2 separate regions of the Homo sapiens genome follow, and region 1 is linked to region 2. The links come from fine-mapping of genetic effects on gene expression. A gene starts in region 2. The other region holds a variant in brackets. All regions are shown on one strand. Distances are from middle to middle.

What was found. PIP is the estimated chance that this variant, and not a neighbour inherited with it, causes the effect.
Region 1: its variant is fine-mapped to the expression of MPZ in whole blood (INTERVAL, PIP above 0.99).

What each region holds. Positions count from the first base shown.
Region 1 is chr1:161,403,374-161,417,355 of GRCh38, reverse strand. It overlaps the pseudogene LOC148430 and the pseudogene COMMD6P1. Among named protein-coding and RNA genes, the nearest start is that of TRV-CAC1-1, 11 kb to the right of the region's middle. The variant G/TG (reference allele first, on the strand shown) is at 5,276.
Region 2 is chr1:161,298,090-161,314,105 of GRCh38, reverse strand. MPZ (myelin protein zero) reads left to right here and starts at 4,138. Exons shown (of 6, transcript NM_000530.8): 1 at 4,138-4,267; 2 at 6,682-6,848; 3 at 7,185-7,398; 4 at 7,642-7,777; 5 at 7,938-7,998; 6 at 8,129-9,371. The coding sequence starts at 4,201. The coding sequence ends at 8,230. RefSeq lists an enhancer at 1-149.

The DNA.
Region 1 (13,982 bases), 100 kb before region 2:
AGGCCGAGGTGGGCAGATCATTTAAGGTCAGAAGTTCAAGACCAGCCTGGCCAACATGGTGAAACATGGTGAAACTTCATCTCTACTAAAAGTACAAAAATTAGCTGGGCATGGTGTCTTGTGCCTGTAATCCCAGCTATTCAGGAGGCTGAAGCAGGAGAATCACTTGAACCTCAGAAGTGGAGGTTGCAGTGAGCCAATATCATGCCACTGCACTCCAGCCTGGGCGACAGAGTGAGACTGTCTAAAAAAAAAAAAAAAAAAAAAAAAAAAAAAAAAATATATATATATATATATATATATATATAGAGAGAGAGAGAGAGAGAGAGAGAGAGAGAGAGAGAGAATATACATATATATACACCCAGCCTGGGTGACAGAGTGAGACTCTGTCTCAAAAAAAAAAGCTTTATATATATATATATATATATATATATATATATATATATATATATATAAAGCTTTTTTATATATAAAAAATATATTTTTATATATAATATAAAATTATATATATAAAATATATTTATATACATAAAAGCTTTTTTATATATATATATAAAGCTTTTTTTTTTTTTTGAGACAGAGTCTCGCTCTGTCACCCAGGCTAGAGTGCAGTGGCGCCATCTTGGCTTACTGCAAGCTCCGCCTCCCGGGTTCACGCCATTCTCCTGCCTCAGCCTCCAGAGTAGCTGGGACTACAGGTGCCCACCACCACACCCGGCTAATTTTTTGTATTTTTAGTAGAGACGGGGTTTCACCATGTTAGCCAGGATGGTCTCGATCTCCTGACCTCATGATCCGCCCGCCTCTGCCTTCCAAAGTGCTGGGATTACAGGCGTGAGCCACCACGCCCAGCCAAAAAAGCATATTTTTCTCTTTTTCTTTTCTTTTTTTTTTTTGAGAAGGATTCTCACTCTGTCGCCCAGGCTGGAGTGCAGGGGCACAATCTCGGCTCACTGCAACCTTCGCCTCCCGGGTTCAAATGATTCTCCTGCCTCAAACTCCTGAGTAGCTGGGACTACAAGCATGAGCCACCACGCCCAGCTAACTTTTGTATTTTTTAGTAGAGATGGGGTTTCACCGCGTTGGCCAGCCTGGTCTCGAACTCCTGACCTCAAGTGATCCACTCGCCTTGGCCTCCCAAAGTGCTGGGATTACAAGGGTGAGCCACCATGCCCGGCCAAAATACATGTTTTTCTTGAGTTGTCTTTGTCTCATGGATTTGTAGGAGTAGTTTTGATATTATGTTGTGAATATCTTCACCCCAGTCAGTCCTCTTCTATTTCTCCCAAAAGGTATTGTATACTTTCACTTTTTTTCCCTCTTATCACTCACGGGCACACAAAATTGATTCAATCATCTCCCTCAGTTTATTGCACTTTATTTATTTATGTATTATTTATTTATTTTGAGATGGAGTCTCACTCTGTCACTCAAGCTGGAGTGCAAGGGCATGATCTTGGTTCACTGCAACCTCTGCTTCCCAGGTTCAAGCGATTCTCCTGCCTCGGCCTCCTGAGTAGTGGGGACTACAGGCATGCGCCGTCATGCCTGGCTAATTTTTGTATTTTTAGTAGAGACAGGATTTTTCCACGTTGGCCAGGCTGGTCTCAAACTCCTGACCTCAAGAGATCCACCCTTCTCAGCCTCCCAAAGTGCTGGGATTACAGGCATGAGCCACCCCGCCCAGCCCTATTGCTCATTATAATCATTGATTGGGTAAGATCCCTGTTCTGTTATATTGTCTCATTATTTTCTCCTCATCTCCCATTCTTACACCAATTCCTCTCCCCTACAATGCACCCAGTTTTGTATATTTAGTCTGTTTTTTAAATATACATATTATTTCTAAAAATATTAGGCCAGGCACGGTGGCTCATGCCTGTAATCCCAGCACTTTGGGAGGCCCAGGCAGGTGGATCACCTGAGGTCAGGAGTTCAAGACCAGCTTGGCCAACATCGTGAAACCCCGTCTCTACAAAAATACAAAAAAATTAGCCAGGCATGAAGGCAAGTGCCTGTAATCCCAACTACTCAGGAGGCTGAGGTGGGAGTATCGCTTGAACTCAGGAGGGGGAGGTTGCAGTGAGCCAAGATTGTGCCACTGTACTCCAGCCTGGGTGACAGAGACTCCACCTCAAAAAAAAAAAAAAAAATGAATCTGGAGATATAAAAGGTATCAGTGTTTGTGTATGTGAGAGTGTGTTTATTTAACAAAATGCAATATTGTATATTTGCAAAAATGGGTTTCTGCTATGAATTTTATGCTATTTCCTACTCCCTTTTCACTGTTTTTGTGAAAACAGTGTATTTTTATTCTCTCTCTTTTGCATCAGTAAACCAAGCCTAAGTAAATCTATGCATTAGTGATGGACATCTGGACTGCCTCCAATTCTCACCATCACACACAGTCCTGTCATGAATATTCTGATACATGTCTCCTTATAGACCTAGGTGCTAGTTTCTCTTAGATATAGAGTTAGAAGGATTGCTGAGTCTTAAAGCATACAGTTACTTAAATACTTCCAGGTTGCTTCCCAACGTGCTATACCTGTTTAATTCCCATCAGCAGGACATGAGACTTCCCATTTGCCTATGTTTTATTTTATTTTATTCTATTCTATTTTTTTTTTTTTTTTTAGACAGAGTCTCACTCTGTCACCTAGGCTGGAATGCAATGGCATGATCTCAGCTCACTGCAGCCTCTGCCTCCCAGGTTCAAGCGACTCTCCTGCCTCAGCCTCCCGAGTATGTGGGATTACAGGCATGGACCACCATGCCCAGCTAATTGTTGTATTTCTAGTAGAGATGGGATTTCACCATATTCATCAAGCGGGTCTCAAACTCCTGACCTCAGGCGATCCACCCGCCTCAGACTCCCAAAGTGCTTGGATTACATGCACGAGTCACTGTGCCCGGCCTCTCATTTGCCTATATGTTACCCAAGACATGACTTTCTAATGTTTACCAAAGATATAAATTGGTATCTCGCCATTTTAATTTATTTCCATTTCTCTGATTACTAGTGAGGTTCATCATTCTTCATATTTTTAGCTACTTAGCTTTCCCCTTCTTAAGTTGGACTATTCACATTCTTTACCCATTTTTTTATGTTAGGTTTCCTGTTGGGTATTTTCTTTTCTTTCTAATTTCAGAAGTTCCTTGTATCTTCTAGAATCTAATTATAAATCCCTTGTTTTAGATATCATATCTTCTCCTTGTTATTATCTCTTCGTCCATGATGTGCCTCATTGAAGTCTTTCATATCGAGTTGCTCAGATTCATCCATTTATTTTCCCTCTATGCTGTATGGTTTTACGATCTTCTATTTTAAAAATTCTTTCCCACCCCAAGGTAACAAAAACGTTATTCTGAATTTTTGTCTATTAGCTTCATGGTTTCATCTTTGACTTTTTGATATCTAATCTATTGGAAAGTGGTAACTGTGTGAGTTATAATCCAATTTTATTTTCCCAACATACTGTAAGTCAGTTTTCTCAAGATTATCCGCTAAACAACTCATTAATTCAAATATTATATCATATATGAAATTTCTGTTCACACTCAGGTCTGTTTCTGGATTCTGTATTCTGTTCCATTGGGTACTTATTTATTCTTGTGTCAGTGCTACACAGTTTTTAAAATTTACTATGGCTATTGTCTTTTTTTTTTTTTTAATAGAGATGAGGGTATCGCCATGTTTGTTGCCCAGGCTGGTTTCAAACACCTGAGTTCTGAAGGGGGCTAGCCCCTCCACACCTGTGGGTATTTCTCCTCAGGTGGGACAAGAGACTGAGAAAAGAAATAAGACACAGAGACAAAGTATAGAGAAAGAACAGTGGGCCCAGGGGACTGGCGCTCAGCATACAGAGGACCCGCACTGGCACTGGTCTCTGAGTTCCCTCAGTATTTATTGATCACTATCTCTACCATCTCGGAGAGGGGGATGTGGCAGGACAATACGGTAATAGTGGGGAGAGGGTCAGCAGGAAAACATATGAGCAAAGGTCTCTGTGTCATAAATAAGTTTGAGGAAAGGTGCTGTGCCTTGATGTGCATGTACACAAACATCTCGGTGCATTAAAGAGCAGTATTGCCACCAGCATGTCTCACCTCCAGCCCCAAGGCGGTTTTCTCCTATCTCAGTAAATAGAACGTACAGTCGGGTCTTACACCGAGACATTCCATTCCCAAGGATGAGCAGGAGACAGATGCCTTCCTCTTATCTCAACTGCAAAGAGGCCTTCCTCTTTCAGTAATCCTCCTCATCACAGACCCTTTAAGGGTGTGGGGCTGGGGGACAGTCAGGTCTTTCCCTTCCCATGAGGCCATATCTCAGGCTATCAGATGGGGAGAAACCTTGGACAATATCTGGCTTTCCTGGGCAGAGGTCCCTGCAGCCTTCCGCAGTATATGTGTCCCTGGGTACTCGCGAGTAGAGAATGGCAATGACTTTTACCAAGCATACTGCGTTCAAACACTTTTTTTAACAAAGCACATCCTGCACAGCCCTAAATCCATTAAACCTTGAGTCAATGGCCAGGCGCTGTGGCTCACGCCTGTAATCCCAGCACTTTGGGAGGCCAAGGTGGGCGGATCACGAGGTCAGGAGATGGAGACCATCCTGGCTAACACGGTGAAACCCTGTCTCTACTAAAAATACAAAAAATTAGCCGGGTGTTGTGGCGGGTGCCTGTAGTCCCAGCTACTCGGGAGGCTGAGGCAGGAGAATGTGGTGAACCCCAGAGGCGGAGCTTGCAGTGAGCGGAGATGGCGCCACTGCACTCCAGCCTGGGAGACAGAGTGAGACTCTGTCTCAAAAAAAAAAAAAACCTGGAGTCAACACAGCACATGTCTCTGGGGCACAGGGTTGGGGCTAGGGTTACAGATTAACAGCATCTCAAGGCAGGCAGAAGAGTTTTTCTTAGTACAGAACAAAATGCAGTTTTTTTGGTTTTTTTTGAGACGGAGTCTCACTCTGTCGCCCAGACTGGAGTGCAGCGGCGCAATCTCGGCTCACTGCAACCTCTGCCTCCTGGGTTCAAGCGATTCTCCTGCCTCAGCTTCCCGAGTAGCTGGGACTACACATATGCGCCACCATGCCTGGCTAATTTTGTATTTTTAGTAGAGACGGGGTTTCACCATGTTGGTCAGGTTGGTGTAAACTCCTGATCTCAGGTGATCCACCCACCTCAGCCTCCCAAAGTGCTGTGATTACAGGCGTGAGCCACCGCGCCTGGTCAGAGCTTGTAGATTTTTTTCTTTTTTTTTTTTT[G/TG]ACAGTCTCGCTCTATCGCCCAGGTTGGAGTGCAGTGGCGTGATCTTGGCTCACTGCAAGCTCTGCCTCCCAGGTTCATGCCATTCTCCTGCTTCAGCCTCCTGAGTAGCTGGGACTACAGGCACCCGCCACCATACCTGGCTAATTTTTTTGTGTTTTTAGTAGAGAGGGGGTTTCGCCGTGTTAGCCAGGATGGTCTCCATCTCCTGACCTTGTGATCCACTCGCCTCGGCCTCCAAAAATGCTGGGATTACAGACATGAGCCACCACGCCTGGCTGAGCTTGTAGATTTTCAATGGAAACTGGGTTTGGCTGTGAGATGTGACAGTTGCAGATCTCTTAAGTATCCTTATGTTGCAGTGATGCTAAAAGTGCCACTCATTCAGTCCAAGTAAAGAACAAGTCCTTTGAAATGACAATTCCACAGTTTCAGAATTTATGCAGACAATTCAAGGAGATTGCTGCAGTTATTGAAACTATGTGAAATGGATTATTTGGTTGATAAATTACTATCATTCTAAAGTCATGGACTTCACTTTCTGCAACAAAACCGCATAAGAATGAAGTATTTATTGAATGAAAAATTGCACTTTTGTTTTTTTTCTTTTTTTTGAGATGGAGTTTCACTCTTTGTTGCCCAGGCTGGAGTGCAGTGGCATGATCTCGGCTCACTGCAACCTCTGCCTCCCAGGTTCAAGGGACTCTCCTGCTTCAGCCTCCTGAGTAGCTGAGATTACAGGTGCCCACCACCACACCCCGCTAATTTTTGTATTTTTAGTAGAGATGGGGTTTCACCATGTTGGCCAGGCTGGTCTCGAACTCCTGACCTCAGGTGATCCGCCCAGCTCGGCCTCCCAAAGTGCTGGATTACAGATGTGCGCCACCACATCCAGCTGTTTTTCCATTTTTAAAAATAATTTTAAAAATTCAGACAAAAAAAAGATAATAGCGGCCAGGCTCATTAGCTCACAGCTGCAATCCCAGCACTTTGAGAGGGTGGGTGGATCACTTGAGCTTGTGGGGGAAAGAAAGAGAGATCAGACTGTTACTGTGTCTATGTAGAAAGAAGTAGACATAAGAAACTGCATTTTGTGCCAGGTGCCTTGAACCCAGGAGCTGAGAACGTGCTAAGGAAGGAGACCACTACTACTCCTGCTGCCCTCCTCCCCCCACCTTGCCTAGTTCACAAGACAGGAGGAAAGAGAGAAAGCCAAAAGTTGGAAAAAAAACAAAAGTGAGATAAATAGCCAGACAATCTTGACACCACCACCTGGCCCTAGGAGTTAAAAAAAGTTATAATAATAACATCAACCCCTGACCTAAACTACTTGTGTTATCTATAAATTCCAGACACTGTATGAAAAAAGCACTGTAAAACTTTTTGTTCTGTTAGCTGATGCATGTAGCCCCCAGTCACGTTTCCCACGCTTGCTCAATTTATCACGACCCTTTCATGTGGACCCCTTAAAGTTGTAAGCCTTTAAAAAGGCCAATAATTTCTTTTTCGGGGAGCTCAGCTCTTAAGGCGCAAGTCGGCTGATGCTCCCGGCAGAATAAACCACTTCCTTCTTTAATCCGGTGTCTGAGGAGTTTTGTCTGTGGCTCGTCCTGCTGCATTTCTTGGTTCCCTGACCAGGAAGTGAGGGGATTAATGGAAGGCCAAGGCAGCCCCTTAGGCAGCTTAGGTCTGCCCTGTAGAGCATCCCTGCGGGGGACTCTGGCCAGCTTGAGCCATGCAGATCCTGAGAGCGCTCCCAGGTAGGCATTTGTCCTGGTGGAATGCCTTGTCAGAGCAGTGCACAGCAGGCCCCCGCAGAGGATCAATGCAGTAGCTGAACACCGGGAAGGAACTGGCACTTTAAGTCCAGACATCTAAAACTTGGTAAGACTGGTCTTTGGATCTTGCCCACTCCATTTGAGTGGAAGCATGGCCTGATCACCCATGGCGTGCCTGTACCAGCACTTTGGTTTTTGTTTTTGACTTGACTTGAATTGCTTGACTCTTTGGTTTTAGTTTTGATTTTGATTTGACTTGAATTGCTTGATAAACAGGCATGCCTTTATTGGCACTTTGGTTTTGGTTCTGATTTTGACTTGGCTTAAATTGCTTGATGAACAGGTGTGCCTTTAACAACACTTTGGTTTTCGTTTCGATTTTGATTTAGTGTGAATTAGACAAGTGAGTGACCTTTTACCCTTTCCTTCTTGTAGTGTGAATGTTGTTTTGTCTCAAGAGAAAAATAGGTCAGACACAAAGTAAGCCCACTCCGCTAGGAACTGTGTAAAAAATTTTCAAAAAGAAAAATAAAAGGATAGTCATCAAATCATCAAAACTTACTCTATTAAAATGTATGTTACAGAACCTTAAGAAAGGTTTCACAGGAGATTACAGAGTTAAGTTAACCCCCTAGAGGTTAGGAACTCTGTGTGAATTAGAATTGCCCTCTTTTGGTGTTGGATGGCCCACCGAAGGAACTATAGACAGGGAACAATTGGCCATGTATTTAAGGTGGTGACAGGGGTCAGAGGACAGCCAGTGTACCTAGATTAAATTCCTTTATATTGACTCATGGTTAAATATAATATAGACAAAACCAGCATAAATTTAGCCCTGTTTAACAGCTTATTGCAAAAAAGCCAAAAGTAAAAGTAAGAGCAGCTTCGCCAGCAGTCAGAGTTAAAAAGGGAGTCCCAGAAACAGCAAAAGAAGCCAGTTTTGCAGGAGCCACCAAAGATAATAGAAATTATTTCTCCACATATCCCAGCCTACCCACCTTTACTGAAGCCAACAGCCCCCTCAGAAATGAGATTCAGGAGCTAACAGGCCCCAGGTCTCACCTCGAAGGGGAGGATTGGAGCCTCGAGAGGCCAAGGAAGAAGGTCAAGATAGTCAAGTGGGCCGTCTCAGATCTGGTCTTGCTGGAGCTATGCAAATGCCTCTCAGGAAGACACCAGGACCTGTCTATTATAATGACCAGGCCCACATCTTGGGGGGCAACAGACTTTCATCTATCAGCCCTTTTCAACCATTGATCTACTAAACTGGAAACACCCTGAACCTGCCACCTTGCTCCCAGCAGCTAGAGCCCTGTCGAGCATAACAGTGCAGAGGTGTTGGACTCAAGTTTACTCTAGCAGACCTGACCTCCGGGACCAGCCTTGGGCATCAGTAGACTGGGAGCTATACAGCTTCATCAACCCACAAGGAGAGAGATATGCAGAATATGCAGTGGTAACCCTGGACACTGTTGTTAAGCTGAGCTCATTGCTTTAATTCGGGTCTTAGAACTCAGTGAAGGTAAGACTGTAAACATTTACACTGACTCTCAGTATGCCTGTTTAACCCTCCAAGTGCATGAAAAATTATATAAAGAAAAGGGCCTGTTAAACTCCAGGAAAAAGGGGAAAAAAGGCCCAGAGAATGCAACTCAGCTTCAGTGTTTGCAGAGGTACTGAGAAGCACTTCTGCAGAGGTTAAGAGTTGGTAGAAAAAAGCAAGTAATATAAAAAAGATTTCAGGAATGCTTTAAGGAGCTGGCAAGAGCCTAAGTCAGTTTTATAAGAGACTCTATACAGCATTCTGGCTTTACACCCCATTTAACCCTGAGGCTGCTGAAAATCAGTATATAGTGAATACTTCATTTGTAAAGCAAGCCTACGGTAACAGCAAGCAGAAGCTGCAGGCATGAATACCACCTAGTCTATAAAAGTGGCCACCAAGGTGTACGTTAACTGTGACCAAGGAACAAAACTGGGAAAGAGCAAAAGAAAAAGAAAGACTAAGTGTGAAAAAGAGAATCAGAAGGAAACAGGAGAGACAGACAGCAGTGCGTGGGGGCAGGGCCCGTGCCATTGCCCGGCCCCACCAGCTGGCTGTAGGAGCAGGAGAACTCAGAAAAAAAAAAAAAAAAAAAGTAAATTAAAGACTTAAGAAGAAAAAGCCAATATGTTAGCAACAGCTCTTATAAAAAAAATTAGCAATGTGAGAGGACATGGACGTGGATGTAGACAAGAAAGAAGTCAAGTTAGGCAAGTATTCAAGAGCCAGACAAGGCTAGAGAGAGAATAATGTATGAGATGCAAAAAGAAAGGACACTAGAAGGGTAAATGTTCAGAAGGCAATAAAGGAAATGGCCAAGGCCGCAAGACAAAGAGGCCATCGGCCAAGGGCAGCTGCACCTTGGAGGAACCAAATACTGATCTGATCAGGCTGACAGGAGCTGAAGAATGTAAAGACTAGGGCAGACTAGGCACCTTCTCATTAGGCTCCCAGGAGCCCATGGTCACATTAGAAGTTAAAAGCAGCAAGATTCTGCCGTATCTGTATTCCAGCTTCTCACTGAAGGCTAAGCCACTAGATAAAGTTACAAAGGCCGGGTGGGGGGAAGAAACCCTCCTCTAAGAAACTTAAACAGGACAAAGAGCCATACCTTGTGAAAACTTGCTCATGGACTTTACAGAACTGCCCCGTGCTGGAGGCTATCGGTACATGCTAGTGCTTCTTTGCACCTTTTCAGGGTAAGTTAAAGTTTTCCCCACCAGGACAGAAAAAGTACAAGAAGTGACTAGAGTACTGTTAAAAGACATTATCCCCAGGTTTAGACTACCTCTAACTTTAAAGTTAGACAATAGGCCAGCATTTGTAGCTGAAATAGTGCAAGATTTAACAAGACTGTTAAAAATAAAATGGAAGTTACACACAGCCTATCGGCCACAAACTTCAAGAAAAGGTGGAACACATGAACTGGACACTCGAGCAGCTACTGAAAAAAATATTGCCAGGAAATTCATTTAAGATAAAATCAGGTTTTTGCCTACGGTCCTCCTCCGAGTCAGGTGCACCCCCAACAAACAAACTAGGTATTTGCCGTATAAGATTTTGTTCGGTCGGCCACCCCTAAATCATAGGTCAAATTAAAGGTGACCTCCAGAAACTAAAGGAATTAACCTTTTTTTAATGCTTAATTCACTTTATTTTTCTTGTATAAAAACTCTATGTTGTAGCCACAGCTGGAGCCTGGGTCCGCTGCACGGAGACTCTGGTGTGGGTCTTGATGAGGTGGTCAGTGAATTCCTGATAGGGAGACTTGGTAAATACAGTCTCCTTCCAGAGGTCAGGGGTCAGGTAGCTGTAGGTCTTAGAAATGGCATCAAAGGTGGCCTTGGAGAAGTTGCCCAGGGTGGCAGTGCAGCCCTGGGCTGAGGTGTAGCAGTCATCGATACCAGCCATCATGAGCAGCTTCTTGGGCACAGGTGCGGAGACGATGCCAGTGCCCCTGGGTGCAGGCATAAGGTGCACCAGCACGGAGCCGCTGCGGCCTGTCACCTTGCAAGGGACGGTGTGGGGCTTGCTGATCTTGTTACCCCAGTAGCCTCTGCGCACGGGGACAATGGAGAGCTTGGCCAGGATGATGGCCCCACGGGTGGCGGTGGCCACCTCCTTGGAGCACTTAACACCCAGACCAACGTGGCCATTGTAGTCCCCGATAGCAACAAACGCCTTGAACCTGGTGCGCTGGCCGACACGGGTCTGCTTCTGCACTGGCATAATCTTCAAAACCTCATCCTTGAGAGAGGCCCCCAGGAAAGAGTCAATGATCTCTGATTCCATATTTCTGCATCTCAATCGTTTCTTCATATTTGCCTTTTTCCTCTTGTTTGGTGAGATGTGGCTTTCCACTCAGGTTTCCTTTTGCTTTGTCCAGCTTTGGCCTAGCCATGACCACCACACCTTGCTTAATGGGCAGGGAGAAGACATAGATCTCCTCCAGGGACTTGATCTTCATGTCCTTGACAAAGCGGCCCAGCTTTGTGACAGGCATCCACTCCTTATCCTTGGCCTTGCCTCCGCGATCTCCAGGGCCTTGGCCCCAGCCCCGTCCATGGCCGCGACCCCGGTTCTGGATGCCACTGCCAAAACCTCCGTGGAAGCCACCACGGTTCCCTATCCCAGGGCCACCAGGGCCTCCGGGCCCCCCCCCCCCCCACCCGCTGCACCGGTGTCATCCGCCATTTGTTGTTTTCTCGCAGAAGAAGAGGAATTAACCTTAAGAAAGCAAATGCAGGCTTTAAAAATAGCCATACAAAGTGTTCATAATTAAATAAATGAAAATGCCTATAAGCCAGACACCCCTTTAAATCTAGTGACTCTGTTTAAAGCAAAATCTAATTTTTCTAGGATCCATATAGCATGGGCCCTATACTGTAACCTTGTCCACTCCCACTGCTGTTAAAGTTGCAGGTGTGGTGTCTTGGATCCACCACAGTTGGCTAACACCAGCAGCTCAAGACAAGTAGCAGCCAGCAGGATGCAGATTATCCAACCCTGATGATCCTGAGATGAGACCAAACTGCTGCTGAGGATGACAGCCGTGCTCTGGTCACTCCAGAGGCTGACCAGTCTGCGCATGGCTGAACCTTGAGGAGACAACAAGCCCTGCTCTAGTCACACACCGGCAGCTGACTAGTCTATGCACAGCCGAAGCTTGAGGACTCATCAAGCAAGTAAATGTAGTTAAAAATCTTAAGACTAATAGTTTTCCTGTAATATTGTTTTCCTATTGTTCTGTCACTGTATTCAACCTTTTTCCCAGTAAGGACCTCTTTTGTCCTTGCTGGATATGAATATGCTGTACATTGTTTTGTTGTTGCTACCCCCCCCATAACCATGCTAGAAGAAACATCTATATAAGGTGTCCCCACTGTACACATACTACTTAGGAAACCCAGACCCATCCAGCCCAGCAACAATTCCAAGTCTTTCAGTCATTCTTTAAACATATAAACCAGAAGTTACCAGAACCTCCTCCTTTAGCAAAAAAGGAAAAAACCTATTTGCTCAGCTGGCTGAAAACATTGCTGGCAGCCTAGATGTTTCTTCATGTTATGTTTAAAAAAAGGCTAACATAAGAGACCAATGGCCTTGAGAAGCAAAAGAGTTAATGCCTCGAAGATAACTTCAACTAGCTCTTTCCCCAAAGAGACGCCACAAGTTCAAGTGTCTGGCTCTTAAAATCTTCTATTATTAAAAAATACTGTGTTATTCTCTAGGAAAAAGCTTTTAAGACCCAGTTAATAAACTAACCTGCTTAGGACATGACAAAGTTGATACATGTGCATATACAGGTTTAACACAGGTTTGATCCTAGGTCTTTATTTAGAAAATAGTTTCCAGCTACAAAAAATTTAAAACCCTCACTGTAAGTGCATTACTAGTAATAGCAACTTGCTTGCTGCTCCCCTGTGTATTACGCTTGCTCTTTCAAACGATAAAAGGTTTTGTAACTACCATGGTTTGTCAGAAAACTTCAACACGAGTGTATTACATAAAACATTATCACTCTGTCTTGCAAAAAGACTCAAAAGGTAAAAATAAAAGTGAGAACTCCCACTAATTAGTGAAAATTCTCAAAGTGGGGGATAAGGAAGGAGACCACTACTACTCCTGCTGCCTCCCCCCCATCTTGCCTAGTTCACAAGACAGGAGAAAAGAGAGAAAGCAAAAAGTTGGAAAAAAAAAAAAAAAGATAAATAGCCAGACAACCTTGACACCACCACCCAGCCCTAGGAGTTAAAAAAAGTAATAATAATAACATCAACCTCTGACCTAAACTACTTGTGTTATCTGTAAATTCCAGACACTGTATGAAAAAAGCACTGTAAAACTTTCTGTTCTGTTAGCTGATGCATGTAGCCCCCAGTCACGTTTCCCACATTTGCTCGATTTATCACGACCCTTTCATGTGGACCCCTTAAAGTTTTAAGCCTTTAAAAAGGCCAAGAATTTCTTTTCCGGGGAGTTCGTCTCTTAAGACGCAAGTCGGCCGACGCTCCCGGCCAAATAAACCACTTCCTTCTTTAATCCGGTGTCTGAGGAGTTTTGTCTGCAGCTGGTCCTGCTACAGTGCCACTGCACTCCAGCCCAGGCAACAAAGAGCAAAACTCCATCTCAAAAAAAAGAAAAGAAAAGAAAATCTACAAGCTAGTTGGTGACCTTGGACTTGGCATCCAGTGGCAGCTCACTGGACTCCTCCATGGGAGGTGTCTGGAGCTGGCATCGTGGACTCGAGCAAACACTTCCCCCCTCCCCCAGTTATCAGTTACAATGAGTCTCCTTATTTTCTTTTGTCAAAATTCCGTTGATTATCCATGGACTTATGCATTCATATAAATTTTACAATCAGTTGTCAAGTTATATAAGCCATTCTGTTGATATATTGATATCGCATGGGTCTTGCAGGAGAACATGGAGGAAATTCACATCTTTATAATACTAAATCACCTCATTTATAAATAAGGTAAATCTCTTCACTTAATTAGTTCTCAACTTGCCCTTGAATAATTTTAAGTGTTTCTCAATACAAAGGTTATGTGCATTTATTCTGTGTCTTGTTCTTAGACATGTTATGATTTTGTTCTATCATGAATGATATGTTATTTTCTCATATTTTCTAGGTGACTACTGCTGATGTGGTGGAAATTTCTGATTTTTTAATGTTGACTTTGTAGCCAGCAATCTTATTGAACTATTTTATTCATTCTAATAGTTTACTAATAATTCTGCTTCATTTTCTATGTAGCTAATCAAAACAAATGTGCCTCTTTGAGAAACTATATAGCACCAAGGTTAAAAGGTGAAATCTGGAAGCCATAAAAACTAGTTTCAAAACTGTAGTTAATTCCTCTACTTCCTTTCCAGATTACAAAT
Region 2 (16,016 bases):
CTCCCAAACAGCAAACGGCGGACTTGTTTAGATTCTTCCTTAAGGACTTCGCAGTCTGTTGCGTTCCCCCTGCCTCCCAGGTCGGCCTAAAAACGTGGTGGTTGGCCGGTTGAGACCCCGAAGAGAAAAGATACTTTGGGTTCCCTCCCTTTCTAATACGAAGCTTTAACCAGACAGATACATAAATTGTGACCTAAGTTGGGGAGTGTGTAGAGGGGCCTCGAGAAGACCTTGCGGACCACCATTCCCGAAAACGAGGAGCCTCATCTAACCACCTCGATTAGACCCCACAATTCCTGGGTTTGAGCTGCCACATGGACCAGGCGCCCACTAGCCGAGGACAATGCTCCCTTGTTCGTTGTTTCAGCGCTATGTGGGTGACACCCACAGCTAGAAGAACCCGGAGTGAGGGGAAGAACACGCTTTGATTTATATATGTGTATATATATATATACAGTTTTAGGGAACCCAAGCACAGGAATCAACTGCCGAGCACTCAAGACTGAAGAAAGAAGAAGAGCAAATGATAAAGGAAGGGAACAGAGCACAAAAGTTCTTGACTCTTGTGGGGAGTAGGGTGGAGAGGAGTAAAAGGGACAGGCTAGAGCAACTCCTATTTCTACAAAAAAAATACTCAATTATATTAATATTCAGATCTTATGTATATTTAGCATCCCTGCACTTCAGGATTTAAATAGCACAAATTCACTTATTTCTGCATCAGATGAATAATACTACTTTGCATTTCTATAATGCTTGACAAAGCACATTCGTACACTTTAGGATTGAAAGAGGCTCTCTAATCCAATCTACTATCTATGCAGGGATCTCCTCTGCAACACCCATAACAGCTGATCTTCAAGACTCTACCCCCCCATATTCAATGATGGGTACCTCAAACAACAAGTTTTATTTAATGAACAACTTATTCGTTAGTTATTATATTTAAATACAGTTTTGTGCTATCGAAATTCCAGTCATTGACTTGGCTCTCTGGAGCTTCACGTTAACAAACCCAAGGAATGCCTTTTTCACTCAGATCTTTTTTGGTTTTTCTTTTTCTTTTTCTTTTTCTTTTATTTTGAGACGTAGTCTCACTCTGTCGCCCAGGTTGGAGTGCAGTGGCGCTATCTCAGCTCACTGCAGCCTCTGCCTCCCAGGTTCAAGCGATTCTCCTGCCTCAGCCTCCCCCCAAGTAGCTGGGATTACAGGCCTGCACCACCATGCCCGGCTAATTTTCTGTATTTTTAGTAGAGATGGAATTTCACCATGTTGGCTAGGCTGGTCTAGAACTCCTGACCTCAAGTGATCCACCGGCCTCGGCCTCCCAAAGTCCTGGGATTATAGGTGCGAGCTACCACTCCCAGCCCACTCAGCTCTTTAAATATTAATAATTTCATTTAGCATGTAGTTATGGACTTTTTGTCAGTCCGTGAAAAGTTCTGTAGGGGATTCAAAGATACAGATGTTTGTACTGTCCCCAAGAAGGTTATAGCCTTAGCAGGATCAATAAAGACATGCAACAAAGAAAGTAGCAACAACCCATTGAAGAGGGTGTTGATAAAAGGGGTGGTTAGATAAAGAGGAAATGATTGCTTACAGTTGGGAGGTGGAGTTAGGTGGAAATTTTGGAGGGGAGAGTTTTGGGGGTTTTTTTTTTTTTGTACTTTGAATTGCTGTTTTATAGAAATGTTGACTACAACATCCTGTAAACATTTGTCAATGATGATGGTTTTGCCTATGGACTTCATAAGCAATCCCATATTTAGAATTCCACAACCCAAATCTAATACTAATGACCATACCCACCAGGGCTGTGGTCTAATGAGATGCCAGGAAGGTACCAGGACACTGTCCTTCACCTGGGTGAGCCTGCAGTGGTCTCATAGCAGGAATAACAATGACCACCCCACTTACATTAACTTCTAGAGGTCAGGCACGGTGACTCACACCTGTAATCCCAGTACTTAGGGAAGCCAAGGCAGAAGGATCACTTGAGTATAGGAGTTCAAGATCAACCTGAGCAACACAGTGAGATCCTCATCTCTACAAAAAATTGAAAAATTAGCTGGGTATGGTGGTGGCTGCCTGTGGCTCAGCTAATCTGGAGGCTGAAGTGGGAGGATCGCTTGAGCCTGGGAGGTTGAGGCTGCAGTGAGCTATCATTGCACCACTGCACTACAGCCTGGGCCACAGAGCAAGACCTTATCTCTGAAAAAAAAAAAAAAAAAATTTTAAACTAGCCCAGCATGCTGGCATGCGCCTGTAGTTCCCAGCTACTTGGAAAGCTGAGGTAGGACAATTGCTTGAGCCTCAGAGGTCAAGGCTGCAGTGAGCCATGATCATGCCACTGCATTCCAGCCTGGGCAACAGAGCGAGACTGCCTCAACAAACAAAAAAACCTCAGCTCTGGTTATGTAGACATCCCCATGGCTAACTCCACCCCAACACCTTCAGGTTCTCATGATGTACCAAATTGAATTCACCTTCTTTCACCTGTCATTTAAGGCCTTTCACAAACTGGTTTCGACTTTCCTGTCCAGTCTCATTTCTGACTATGCCACTTCAAGTTTCCCCAAATCAAGTCAAAGTGGATGGCACAAGATCGGCCCTGAATATATCCAACACTTCAGAAACCTACATCTCATATACATACACACACACACACACACACACACACACACACACACACACACACACACACACATTCTGTCTCTCCGTCTCACCTCTTTGTCCTTGCTTTTGCTGTTCTATCTTCTGGTAACCCTCCCTATCTCCCTTTCCAAAATGACAGTCATCCTTCAAGGCTGATTCATATCTAACATTGCCTCCTAGACACAACTATTCTTCCCTCTGAACTATTTATTTGTTTGATTATTTATTTATTTATTTATTTTTGAGACAGAGTTTCATTCTGTAGCCCAGGGTGGAAAGCAGTGGCACAATCATAGCTCGCTGCAGCCTTGATTTCCCAGGTTCAAGCGATCTTCCTGCCTCAGCCTCCCAAGTAGCTGGGACTACAAGCATGTGATAACATGCCCAGCTGATTTTTTAAAAAATTTTGGTAGAGGCGAGGTCTTGCTATGTTGCCCAGACAGGTCTCAAACTCCTAAACTCAAGCAATCCTCCTGCATAAGCCTACCAAAGTGCTGAGATTACAGGTGTCAGCCACTATGCCTGGCATAAACTTCATTTATTAAAGTTTATTTTGTCTTTAATCTCTCATATAACTTAGTCTTCCTGATATTGCAGCTGTGTGTGCCCCTCTTTTGTACTCCCAGCATTTTGTTCATTACTAAAGGAAGTGTCATGGCTTATTATACTTGATTGTTGATGGGTTTGTCCTCTGATCTTCCCATCTCCACCTCCCCAAACCAAATTTTCAACTCCTTGCTGGAAGGACTTAATTTTTATTCCTCTCTCTATTACCTGCATTCTCATACTTTACATATTGCTGGCACTTAATACAATTTTGTAGCCTTGAAATAAATTGAAATGGACTTAAACAGCAGCATGAAGCACTGAAGGACTTCTTGACAAACGGAAAGGTCAGGGGCTTCTTGCCTGGAAATAGTCCAGTGGAGAAAAACTTCTGTCTGGGAAGAATCGCACAGGATGAAGGGAGGTGCGGGGAAAAAAACTCCCATAGGACTTGGTCATCTCAAGAAGTCTGTAATGCAGCCCACATTAGAGGAGATAACAGGGGATATCCTATTTTCAGAGTTCTCTGGGGGAAACCTCCCTCTAGTTCCTAGGGCTGTGAGGCAGCCTCTCTCAGGCAAGGAGGCTGAGGAGAAATCCCTTTTTATGGCCTTTAAATTGAGGTTCCATATCTATCCCTCAGAGAAGTGTGTCTGTGTCCCTGTTTTTGTCCCTCTCCCTCACCACCCCCCACAACATTCCAGCCTGGGGCAGGGGGAGGCCAGTGGACACAAAGCCCTCTGTGTATGGGGTGGTATGTGTCCCCCCACCCCTCCACCCAGACTATACAATGCCCCTTCTGCTCCCTGCACTCTGCCCCCCTCCCCACCACCTCTCAACTGCACATGCCAGGCTGCAATTGGTTACTGGCTGAGGACAGCCCCCTCATGCTGGGGCCCTAGGGGATTTTAAGCAGGTTCCAGGAACCCCCCGTTCAGTTCCTGGTCCCCCACTTTCTCAACCCCACAGATGCTCCGGGCCCCTGCCCCTGCCCCAGCTATGGCTCCTGGGGCTCCCTCATCCAGCCCCAGCCCTATCCTGGCTGTGCTGCTCTTCTCTTCTTTGGGTAAGTGGAGCCACTCTACTCTGGGAGTCTTGGGACTCAGGTGTCTCTCAGCAATCCCCACAGCCTTTGCTGCACTCCCCACTGCAACCAAAGAAAGAACAAGCAGGAGCAGGAAGGTGACATTATATTCAGAAAGAAAAAATATGCGGCTGGGCATGGTGGCTCATGCCTGTAATCCCAGCACTTTGGGAGGCCAAGGTGGGATAATTATTTGAGCCCCAGGAGTTGGAGACCAGCCTGGACAACATAACCAGACTCCATCTGTAAAATTCAAAAAAAAAAAAAATATATATATATATATATGAAAAGAAAAAAATATGCATTTAGAGGGAGGAAGTAGAGGTTTTATTTTAAAAGAAAGGGTAAAAGAGAGTGTAGCAAGCTTCCCTGAGTGGTGGCCATGGCTGGACCCAGGTTGGAAATAGTAGCATGCCCCCAGAGCCATGCTAACAGCCTGGTGGGAAGCAGTGTTAGATTACATAAAGAAATAGGCTCAAACACCTGGGTTTGGTTCCCACTCGTCCCCTAGCAGTGCAGGAGGTGCCTTAACCTTAGTTTCCCAGAAGGAAAAAGAGAGTGCGATCTAAGTAAGGAGCCCAGGTTTGTGGTCTCAGCTCCTCAGATTTTTTGTCTCTCTATGGCTCCTCACCTGTTGTGTGGGTGAATGGAGTGAGGTTCTATGAGATTCTGGGATCTTATCCCTCTAAAGCTGTCTTCCTTCATAAGCTGACCAGCCCTTTCCTTGCCCCCTGGCAGATGTTGGGTGAGTAAGAGGTCAAAGCAGGATTATTGGAATGGCCCCTTCCCTTCTCTGAACTGCCCTGAATCCTAGTGCAATGAGTGAGCCATAGGCAAGTGGGGGTGGTGGGGAGGACATCAAGGGAAAGGGGGCTGGCCAGAATGCCCAGGGTTCTCTGCTGTCAGCTGCTTGAGCCCTAGACTCTTCTGGGTTGTACTGGGCTATTTGGGGGTACCCTGAGAAAATGTTAAAGATAGAGAGTTGGAGAAGGGCATAGTGAGGGAAATAGGGGGAAGGAATCTTGATGTATAAGGAAGAGGGAGAGTTGTGTCTCAACACTTGTTCCACTCATAGAACCATTGAGCACAGCTGAGAAGGGCAATGGTTGATATTGTAACAGGAGGAATAGAAGTTAGAGCCAGTGAATTATCTCCCTTGTTAAACAAGGGGGATTCCCAAGAAGGTTCTAAGGTGGAAGTTCCAGAAGGTAAGTACATGGTATTGCATGCTGAGGTGAGAGATTCAGGACAGTTGGGGTGGGAGTAGGGGTGGCATGAGCCCCCCAGCGTTGGTCAGACAATGGAACTTTGTTTGGTTGCCACCTCCCCCTCCTGTAGAACAAAAAGGTCTACAGTTGCCCCTCCCTGGGGCCAGCCCACACACATAGTCTCTCTGGAATGACCTTCCTTGTGTGGGTAAGTCTTGGGGATGGCACTGGGCCACAGTGGCCAAGAGGAAGGTGAGGACAGTTGAACCATAGAGGGCTCACATGTAGGGTCATCTGAGCTGTAGGCTTGGGGTGTTGCTCTGCACCCAGCTGAGAGGGGTATGAGGCCCTTCCCTTCCTGACTCTCCAGTCAAGAGCAAGCTGTATGGCAACCAGGGATTCAGCAATGAGGACAGTTGTGCCAGGGAAGAAGACTTATATTTTCTAGTTATCTTCATTTTTTTCTGCAAGAAATCTGAGTTTGCTGTATTGTGAAATCCAATGCAGCTGTTAAAATAAGATTGATATCTATGAATCAACAGGGAAAGCTCCTCCAGATACGTAAGTTCTTAAGCAAAAAGACACTAGAATACAATGCAATATGTATGTGGAAAAAAAAACTCCACAAAACTATTTGTTGTAAGTATGTGTATATCTTGAGTTTATTGAGTTTATACTGAGTTTGATTCATATTAAATGGATAACTTGTTACATCTTGGAAGGGAATACAGGAAAGGAATTTGTTGGGCTAAGTGTCAAAGGAGACTTTTGTTTTATTTCTATTGCTTGAATAGTTTATAAGAAGAGTACAATATGTATTACCTGTATAATTTATAATAAATTTTAAAAATTTAGAACACTGCATCTAAAGGATAGCTTAAAAGTTAGATACTGACCCAAAGGAGAAGTGAGACTTAAAGACAGAACCCAATCTCTGGAAGTCCTCAAGAGAATTCTGTTACTGCTGATTTCATCTTCTCTACAGACATGCTAAAGAGCTTGACAGACACAGCATTTATGCTCATCTGTTCAGTTAGTCCCCAGAGACTTGGGGCTCAGAATTTGTTGTTTCTTTTCCAAATTGGCCTCTGACCTGTGACTCAGCACTTGATTTCCTACTGATCTCACTTCCTCTGTATCCCTTACTGGGCCCATAGGTGCATCTGATTCCCCACTTTGTGCTTGCAGTGCTGTCCCCGGCCCAGGCCATCGTGGTTTACACCGACAGGGAGGTCCATGGTGCTGTGGGCTCCCGGGTGACCCTGCACTGCTCCTTCTGGTCCAGTGAGTGGGTCTCAGATGACATCTCCTTCACCTGGCGCTACCAGCCCGAAGGGGGCAGAGATGCCATTTCGGTGAGTGCCTGGGGGAATCCTGGGGTTGGATAACAGAAAGTGCTTCAAAGAACAACAAAAAAGATAACTTGGGCTAAGGAGGGGGAAATCCTTTTTGAGCCATAACCCCAACTTTGGCAAGGTAAATGACAGTCTTTGTCACCCTGACTACATTGTCCTCCCTTCTCCAGCACTACCCTTTCCAGCCCAAGATCCCTTACCCTGAGGCTGGAGCGAAGCTTTTTTTTTTTTTTTTTTTTTTTTGCTTTTTTCTTTCTGTAACAAATTATGGAGCTAAGCTTTGACAGCTGTGTTCTCATTAGGGTCCTCTCACATGCTTCCCCTCATTCCTCATAGATCTTCCACTATGCCAAGGGACAACCCTACATTGACGAGGTGGGGACCTTCAAAGAGCGCATCCAGTGGGTAGGGGACCCTCGCTGGAAGGATGGCTCCATTGTCATACACAACCTAGACTACAGTGACAATGGCACGTTCACTTGTGACGTCAAAAACCCTCCAGACATAGTGGGCAAGACCTCTCAGGTCACGCTGTATGTCTTTGAAAAAGGTGTGAGAAGGGATGGGGACAAGGGTATGGGAAGCAGTTTGGGAGGGGATCAGGGAGGACTGATAGGTTGGGGGAAGAGGCAAAAAGCCCGGCCTAAGGACCTTTATTCAGGCTCTGGGAGCGTGGGCAGAAGGCAGTTTTAGCTGGGAGTCCTACATCCTCAATGCAGGGCATACACTCGGACTAGGAACCACAGATACAGGGCCCTGCTCATTCTCCCACTTCTTTTCCCACCCCTCCTAGTGCCAACTAGGTACGGGGTCGTTCTGGGAGCTGTGATCGGGGGTGTCCTCGGGGTGGTGCTGTTGCTGCTGCTGCTTTTCTACGTGGTTCGGTACTGCTGGCTACGCAGGCAGGCGGCCCTGCAGAGGAGGCTCAGGTAAGGGGCGGAGCCTAGCTCCCCTCCCCCTCTCCCCACTATCCCCCATCTGGGCGGAGACTACTCCAGTGGGTGGGAGGGCCAAGGGGAAGAGGAAGCTGTGTCCGCGGTGCAAGGGGTTCCGGCGAGGCCAAACGTACAGCAGTCTCTCTTCTTGCAGTGCTATGGAGAAGGGGAAATTGCACAAGCCAGGAAAGGACGCGTCGAAGCGCGGGCGGCAGGTTAGCGGGACTTGGGGCCTAGACAAGATGGGAAGGAGAACCCTGGGAGCCGCCGGGCAGCAGTGAGGGGTGGGATGGGAACAGTCAAGCCCCAGTCGCTCGGTGACTGATGTGTGCGCCCCTCCCCCAGACGCCAGTGCTGTATGCAATGCTGGACCACAGCAGAAGCACCAAAGCTGTCAGTGAGAAGAAGGCCAAGGGGCTGGGGGAGTCTCGCAAGGATAAGAAATAGCGGTTAGCGGGCCGGGCGGGGGATCGGGGGTTAGGGGTGGAGTCCGCCAAAGGCCCAAAGGTGATGGTCATCGAGATGGAGCTACGAAAGGATGAGCAGAGCCCGGAGCTCCGGCCTGCTGTCAAGTCCCCCAGCAGAACCAGCCTCAAAAACGCCCTCAAGAACATGATGGGCCTGAACTCGGACAAGTGATCGCCACCCCCCCACCCCAGGCCCTGCCAGAGCAGGGGGACCTAGGCTCCTCTTACCCCCGTCTAGGTGCTTTCCCTCTTTGCTCCCCCGCCCTGCCCTGCCCTCACCTCCCTTTGAGATGTAAGTTTCATTCCAGAATTCATTCCCCAGGCAATTGTATTCTCCCCCACCTTCACCCCTGGCTTTCTGGGAGCCCAGGAGCTAATCCTACCCCTCACCTGCCCCGGGGGCTGTGTGTTTGGTGCCTGTCCACCTGAGCACTGAGAAGAAAGGGACTTTGATACCCTCTGCCTCAAGTCCAGGCCACCTGGCATTCCCATCTCCTGCATCCCCCAGCCTGTCCCCCTGGCTGTTTCCTCTCCCGTCCCTCCCTCCCCTCTACCAGGTGGCCCAGCTCCATACTCTGTCCCCCCAGCTAATACCCAGAGCACCCAGATCAGACTCTCCTTCAGGGTTTATTTAGGTTATTATTTTTTATTTTTTAATCCATTCTTTGTTTGTTTACCTGTGCTCATCCTCTGCCCTTACACCCATGACTGAGGACCAATGACGTCATGTGGCTTTTGCAATTCACGCCCCCCTTAAGTCCTTAATGAAGAGCCAGCCCAAGTAGAGGGGCCCCTGATCCTCACACTTCAGTATAGCATTGGTTCCCCCTGACCACTTTGGAGCACTGTTCTGGGACTCCAGGTCTTGAGGAGAGAGACAGAGAGAGAGAATGGATCCTCATAGGTCAGGGAGTGGGGGAGGGGGCAAATGAGCCTTAAGAAATGGTTTTTAAACAACCAAACAAAAAGCAGGAAAAACAAATGGGAAATGGGGGGGCGGGGGGGAGGAAGAGGCTGCACTGCAGCCACAGGGGATTCTTAGGATTTTTCTACATTCTGTATATTTCTTCTCAAACCTCCAAATGTCCTTAAATGTTTAATAAACACTGACATTTCCAGAAGCTGCTGCCTTGTCTAGAATTTCCTAGTCCTCCTGGGAATAATTCCTGCCCCTTATCCCATCCCCAACCTTCCATACTTGGCTTCAGTTGTTTAGTTTGTTTTTTTGGGGTGGGCTTATATAGTATACTAGAAAGAACTCTGAAATAGCCTCACAAGACACATTCATACCTTCAGCAAATAATCAGTGAGATTATACTACGTTGTAAACTCTGCCAGTCTCTGCTTTTACATGAGTTAAAACGCAGAATCTGTCTTCACCAAGATCTGAATTTTAAAACATCCCAGCCACTCTCTAGCTGTGTGATCCCCAGGACAGTTACCTGACTTTGGTAAGCTTGTTTATGTACTTGTAAACAACTGAGATAATGATATCTGCCCTGCTTAATTCCTAGGGATTTTATAATAATCAAATGAGATCCTGTGTATGGAAAACTTTGTAAACTGTAAGTTGATATACAACTAAATATTAAGGTGTTCAATATTTGTTTCTAGTGCTTGCCTAAGGTAGTACACTTTACAAATTAGCACAAATCCCATTCACCTCTCTAAACAATCACTGCTTTGTTTTGTTGGTACATGATTTTACTTCTGTTTACCTATTAATAGGTATACTATTAATACCTCATTAGCTAGTTTGTTGGTATGTTGATTTAGGTATACCATTAATATCCTGGTATCCTGAACTGATTGTGGAAAAACATATACGTATCATTTTCCCCTGGGGATTACTGATGGCACAAAAAAACCCAAAGTGCCCACAAGTAATTTCTTCCCCTTGTTAAGAAGCTAAAGATATGATTAACACCAGCTTTACCAAAACCCAGAGTGCTTCCATTTGTTTGAGGGGTGTCTTCAATGTCTTTTAAAAAAAATCAATCTGCCTTCATTTAAATATAAAAGCTAATAGAGTATATATAGCCTTTTGTTGGGGGGAAGTGGGAGAGGAAACTTAGTCACAACCCAGTAATAAAGTTGGGAATATCTTAAGCCCAAGATTCCTTATTAGTTAAGATGCTAAACTGTCCATTATTCATTAGATAGTTGCAGCTGGGTTCCCTGCTTAAACTTCCCAGACTGTCAGGAGAGTCAAATGAGGTTGGATGTGGTGGCTCATGCCTGTAATGCCAGCACTTTGGGAGGCCGAGGTGGGCAGATCACTTCAGGCTAGGAGGTTGAGGCCAGCCTGACCAACATGGCTAAACACTGTCTCCACTAAAAATACAAAAATTAGCCGAGCATGGTGGTGAACGCCTTCTAACCCTGGCTACTTGGGCAGCTGGGGCACGAGAATTGCTTGAACCGCGGAGGCGGAGGTTGCAGTGAGCCGAGATCATGCCGCTGCACTCTAGCCTGGGCAACACAGCGAGACTATGTCTCATAAAAATAAAAAAGAAAGAGAGAGAGAGAGAGTCAAATGAAATATTATGCTACTTATGAGATAGAGTATAGCTCAAAGCTTCTCATTTAATTACACTTTTGTTCTAAAATTTATCAGCCACCTGCATTTTGCTAGCTCAGTTTATCCAATTATTTTAATATTTCTTATTCCATCAAGAATCCTGGTACCCTGGGACAACATTTTGCAATCTCTTGCATTAGGCATTTTCACAAGCATTGCACACTTAATGTGGGTTTTTCCAGGACTGTGCCCATTTTCCACAATCCCCAACAAAGTAAGCCACATCCCCCCTTTCTTTCCTCTGCAGTAAAGCATTAAATAAAGTCTAGAATAATGATTCAGATAAAGGGAAATGACATTGTTATATGGGAAACTTTGAATCCCATCTAATTATTACTTTGAAATAAATCGTTCACAATCCTCAGTGCGTTGTTAATAATAGCAATAATTTTGCCCAGGCATGTGAGCACTTTGAGAATAATTTAAAGCCTTTTTCAGTGTTAACCATAAAAAGAAAAAGATTATAACCCAATTTATGAATACGCAGACAAAGAGTCTAAATAAAATATTTGCAAAAGAGAATTCCACAATGAGTTAATAAAATAATAAATTATGACCATGAAGAATTTACTCTGGGAATGAAAGAATAGTTCAGTATCAGGAAATTTACTAACAGGATGTGTTATATCATCAGGGAAAAAACGTAATTCTATCAAGAGGAGATGTAAAAAAAAAAAAGCAATTGTTTTTTAGTAGCTATTCCTACAAAACATTCTAAGTAAAATAGTAATAGAAATAACCATAATGGACACTATTTTTCAAAAATCATTTAAAAAGCATATTAAATATGAAATATTGCAGCCATTGTCATTAAAACAAAAGACAGTACTTACATTATCGCTAAAAATATTCAGTATTATATTTGAAGAATTTAGCTAGTGTAATTAACCAAAAACAAGGAACAATCTGTATACATAGATGAGAAACTTATCTTTATTTGCAGATAATATGATTGTGTTTCTAGGAAATCCATAAGATGCAACTAGACATGTATTGAACTAAGAAGTCAATCTGGTAGTGTGATTATAAAATAAATTAATTTCAGTCTATAACTAGAAATCTAGCTAGAAATGAAAATAATAGGGAAGCCCACTGATGACAGTAAAAAGAACAGAAACAGAAATTAACAAGAAAGGTACATAACCTGTATGAAAAAAATTATAAGATTTATTAAGTAACAATATGTGAAAGTTGTCAGAATCAAGATGGAGACACTCGTGTTAAAAAAGAAAAACAGGGCCAAGCGCAGTGGCTCACGCCTGTAATCCCAGCACTTTGGGAGCTGAGGTGGGTGGATCACTTGAGGTCAGGAGTTCAAGACCAGCCTGGCCAACATGGTGAAACTCCATTCTACTAAAAATACAAAACATTAGCCAGACATAGTGGTGCTCACCTGTAATCCCAGCTACTCAGGGGGCTGAAGCAGGGGAATCGCTTGAACCTGGGAGGCGGAGGCTGCAGTAAGCTGAGGTCATGCCACTGCACTCTAGCCTGGGCAACAGAGCGAGACTCCGTCTCAAAAAAAAAAAAAAAACCCCAAAACAAACAAAAAGACAAAAACAAAACAAAAGAAAACCCTGACAAACAGAACCAGGGAGGGCTATGAAGAAACAGGTTCTCATGCATAAATACTTGATAACAAAAGCTATGACAAAAGAATGCAAAATGGGGACTTAGGGGAAAGGGTGGGTGGGGGTGGTGAGGGATAAAAAAAACTACAAATTAGGTTCAGTGTATACTGCTCAGGTGATGGGTGCACCAAAATCTCACAAATCACCACTAAAGAACTTACTCATGTAACCAAACACCACCTGTACCCCAAAAACCTATGGAAATAATTTTTTTTTTTTTGAGACTGAGTTTTGGTCTTATTGCCCAGGCTGAAGTGTGATGACGTGATCTCAGCTCACTGCAACCTCTGCCTCCCGGGTTCAGGCAATTCTCCTGCCTTAGCCCCCCGAGTATCTGGCATTACAGGCGCCCACTATGCCTAGCTAATTTTTGTATTTTTAGTAGAGACGGGGTTTCACTATGTTGGCCAGGCTAGTCTCGAACCCCTAGCCTCAGGTAATCCATCTGCCTTGGCCTCCCAAAGTGCTGGCATTACAGGCGTGAGCCACCGCGCCCGGCCATAAATAAATTTTTTTTTTAATTCTATGAGAAATAAACATTAAACGTTTTTGAAATATTCCCTTCCCCCTCGTTAAATTATTAAACTAAATGATAAATCTATTTGGATTAGGCTATAATCAAATGGCTTTCTGATCTCCTTGCAAATGAATTTTGCCTACTATATTGCAGCCAAATTTTTTCTTTATCTTTGCATGTTCTCACTTATAAGTGAGAGCTAAGCATCGGGTATATATGGACATGACAATAGGAACAATAGACACTGGGGCCTATTTGAGGGGAAAGAAAGAGGAGGGACGGGCTGAAAAAGTACTCATTGGGTGCTATGCTCACTACCTAGTGACGGCATAATTTGTACCCCAAACCTCAGCATCACACAGTATACCAATGTAACAAACCTGTTCATGTACCCCCTGAATCTAAAATAAACGTTGAAATTAAACAAACAAAAAAAATGCAAAAACTGCAACCTTGCACAAATGCTGTTCACGACCTTACACAAAAATTACATCTACAAGGACATCTGCCCAACAACTGTCTGTCAAACCTCCAACTGGCATTGTCTTTATTGATTATTGTAGCAAAGGATAATTATTAATATTTCAAAACAATTATGTGAGCCTCCTCATTTTGCCTTTAAAAACCTTTGTCAGCTGGGCACATTGGCTCTCGCCTGTAATCCCAGCACTTTGGGAGGCCAAGGCAGGCGGATTGCTTGAGTCCAGGAGTTCGAGACCAGCCTGGGCAACATGGTGAAACTGCCATCTCTACAAAAAATACAAAAATTAGCCAGTCGTGGCTGGGCGCGGTGGCTTACCCCTGTAATCCCAGCACTTTGGGAGGCCAAGGCGGGCGGATCACAAGGTCAGGAGATTGAGACCATCCTGGCTAACACGGTGAAACCCCTTCTCTACTAAAAAATACAAAAAGAAATAGCTGGGCGTGGTGGCGGGCGCCTGTAGTCCCAGCTACTTGGGAGGCTGAGGCAGGAGACTGGCGTGAACGCGGGAGGTGGAGCTTGCAGTGAGCCAAAATCTTACCACTGTACTCCAGCCTGGGTGACACAGTGAGAGTCCATCTCAAAAAAAAAAAAAAAAAATTAGCCAGTCATGATGGTGCGTGCCTGTAGTCCCAACTACTCCGGAAGCTGAGGCGGGAGGCTCGCTTGAGCCCAGGAGGTGGAGGTTGCAGCGAGCCAAAATCGCATCACTGTACTTCAGCCGGGGTGATAGAGCAAGATCCTGTCTCAAAAATTCATTTACCACTCAGTTCAGTGGTAAATGAATTGATTATTTAATAAAATATATTGGCATTGGCACAGTTGACTTATACGCCTGGAAGAAATCAAAGTAAAAAGTTTTTTCCCTCACATCCTATACAAAAATAAAATAAAAATTTTAAAAAGACAAATATTAGAAGGAAATAAAAATATTTGTTTAATCTCCAAATGGGGAAGGTCTTTAGGCAAGACAGGAAATCCGGAAATCATAAAAGAAAGTGATAAAAAGTTCAATCTCCCGGGGCTGTGGGCCCTGAAGATGTGGCGCTGTGTAGCAGCCGCCGCCTCGTAAGGCCTGGGCGCTGTGGCCTGGGCCCTGTGGCCTGGGCCCTGTGCCCTCCTAGAGGAGCAGGCAGGTCCCCCAGACTTGAGGTGGGGGCTCTGCCAGCTCCAGCACCACCCTTGCCCCGAGTCTTTTAACCTGAGTGTTAGCATTTTAAAGAGACCCTGCAGGAGTTCTGGCCTCTGACTAACTGCCCCACCCCAGCAGAGACCTGGTCGAGACTGTAACTAGTGATGTTTGTACAACCAAAGACTCTATTTTGTGGTTTAAGGAGAATAAAGTTGACTACATTAAAAAAAAAAAAAAGAAACTCAATCTCTCTCTTTTTTTTTTGAGATGGTGTCTCGCTGTGTCACCCAGGCTGGAGTGCAGTGGCACAATCTTGGCTCACTGCAACCTTCACCTCCTGGGTTCAAGTGATTCTCCTGCCTCAGCCTCCCATGTTGCTGGGATTATAGGTGTCCATCACCATGCCCGGCTAATTTTTGTATTTTTAGTACAGATGGGGTTTCGTCATGTTGGGCAGGCTGGTCTCAAACTCGTGACCTCAAGTGATCCTCCCACCTCGGCCTCCCAAAATGCTGGGATTACAGGCATGAGCCACCATGCCCAACCTAGTTCAACCTCTTTAATGGCAAAATACATTATAAACAAAGACAAAAGACAACTGGTGATGATGGATAAAACACAAGACATATGAAATGTCTTTCTACACATTTTTTTTTTGGGGGGGTGGGGCAGATGGAGTCTCACTCTGTCGCCAGGCTGGAGTGCCATGGTGAGATCTCGGCTCACTGCAACCTCCACCTCCCAGGTTCAAGCGATTCTCCTGCCTCAGCCTCCTGAGTAGCTGGGATTACAGGCGCGCGCCACCACGCCCAGCTAATTTTTTTGTATTTTTAGTAGAGACAGGGTTTAACCATGTTGGCCAGGATGGTCTCGATCTCTTGACCTCATGATCCACCAGCCTCGGCCTCCCAAAGTGCTGGGATTACAGGCGTAAGCCACTGCACCCGGCCTCTATACATTTCTTAATATCTCCGAAATTCCTACCTCCAGATACTGCCCCGTTTCTCCGCTTCCCTGTATAGCAAAACTCCTTGAACAAGTCTAGGATACTATATTTAATACCTCCCATTCTCTCTTCAACCCACTTCAATCATGTCTCTATCCTCATCACTCCACTAAAACTGCTTGTTTCAAAGGGCATTAATGATGCTTATTTTGCAGATTCAGTGGTCACTCTTGTCTTTCTCATCCTCTCAGAAGTATTCAACATTACTAGCCACTTCCTCTTTCTGTTAACACTTTCTCTCTCTTTTTTTTTTTGTTTTTTCTTGAGACAGAGTCTCGCCCTGTCACCCAGGCTGGAGTGCAGTGGCACGATCTTGGCTTACTGCAACCTCTGCCTCCTGGGTTCAAGCGACTCTCCTGCCTCAGCCTCCTTAGTAGCTGGGATTACAGGCGCCCACTACCACACTAGGCTGATTTTT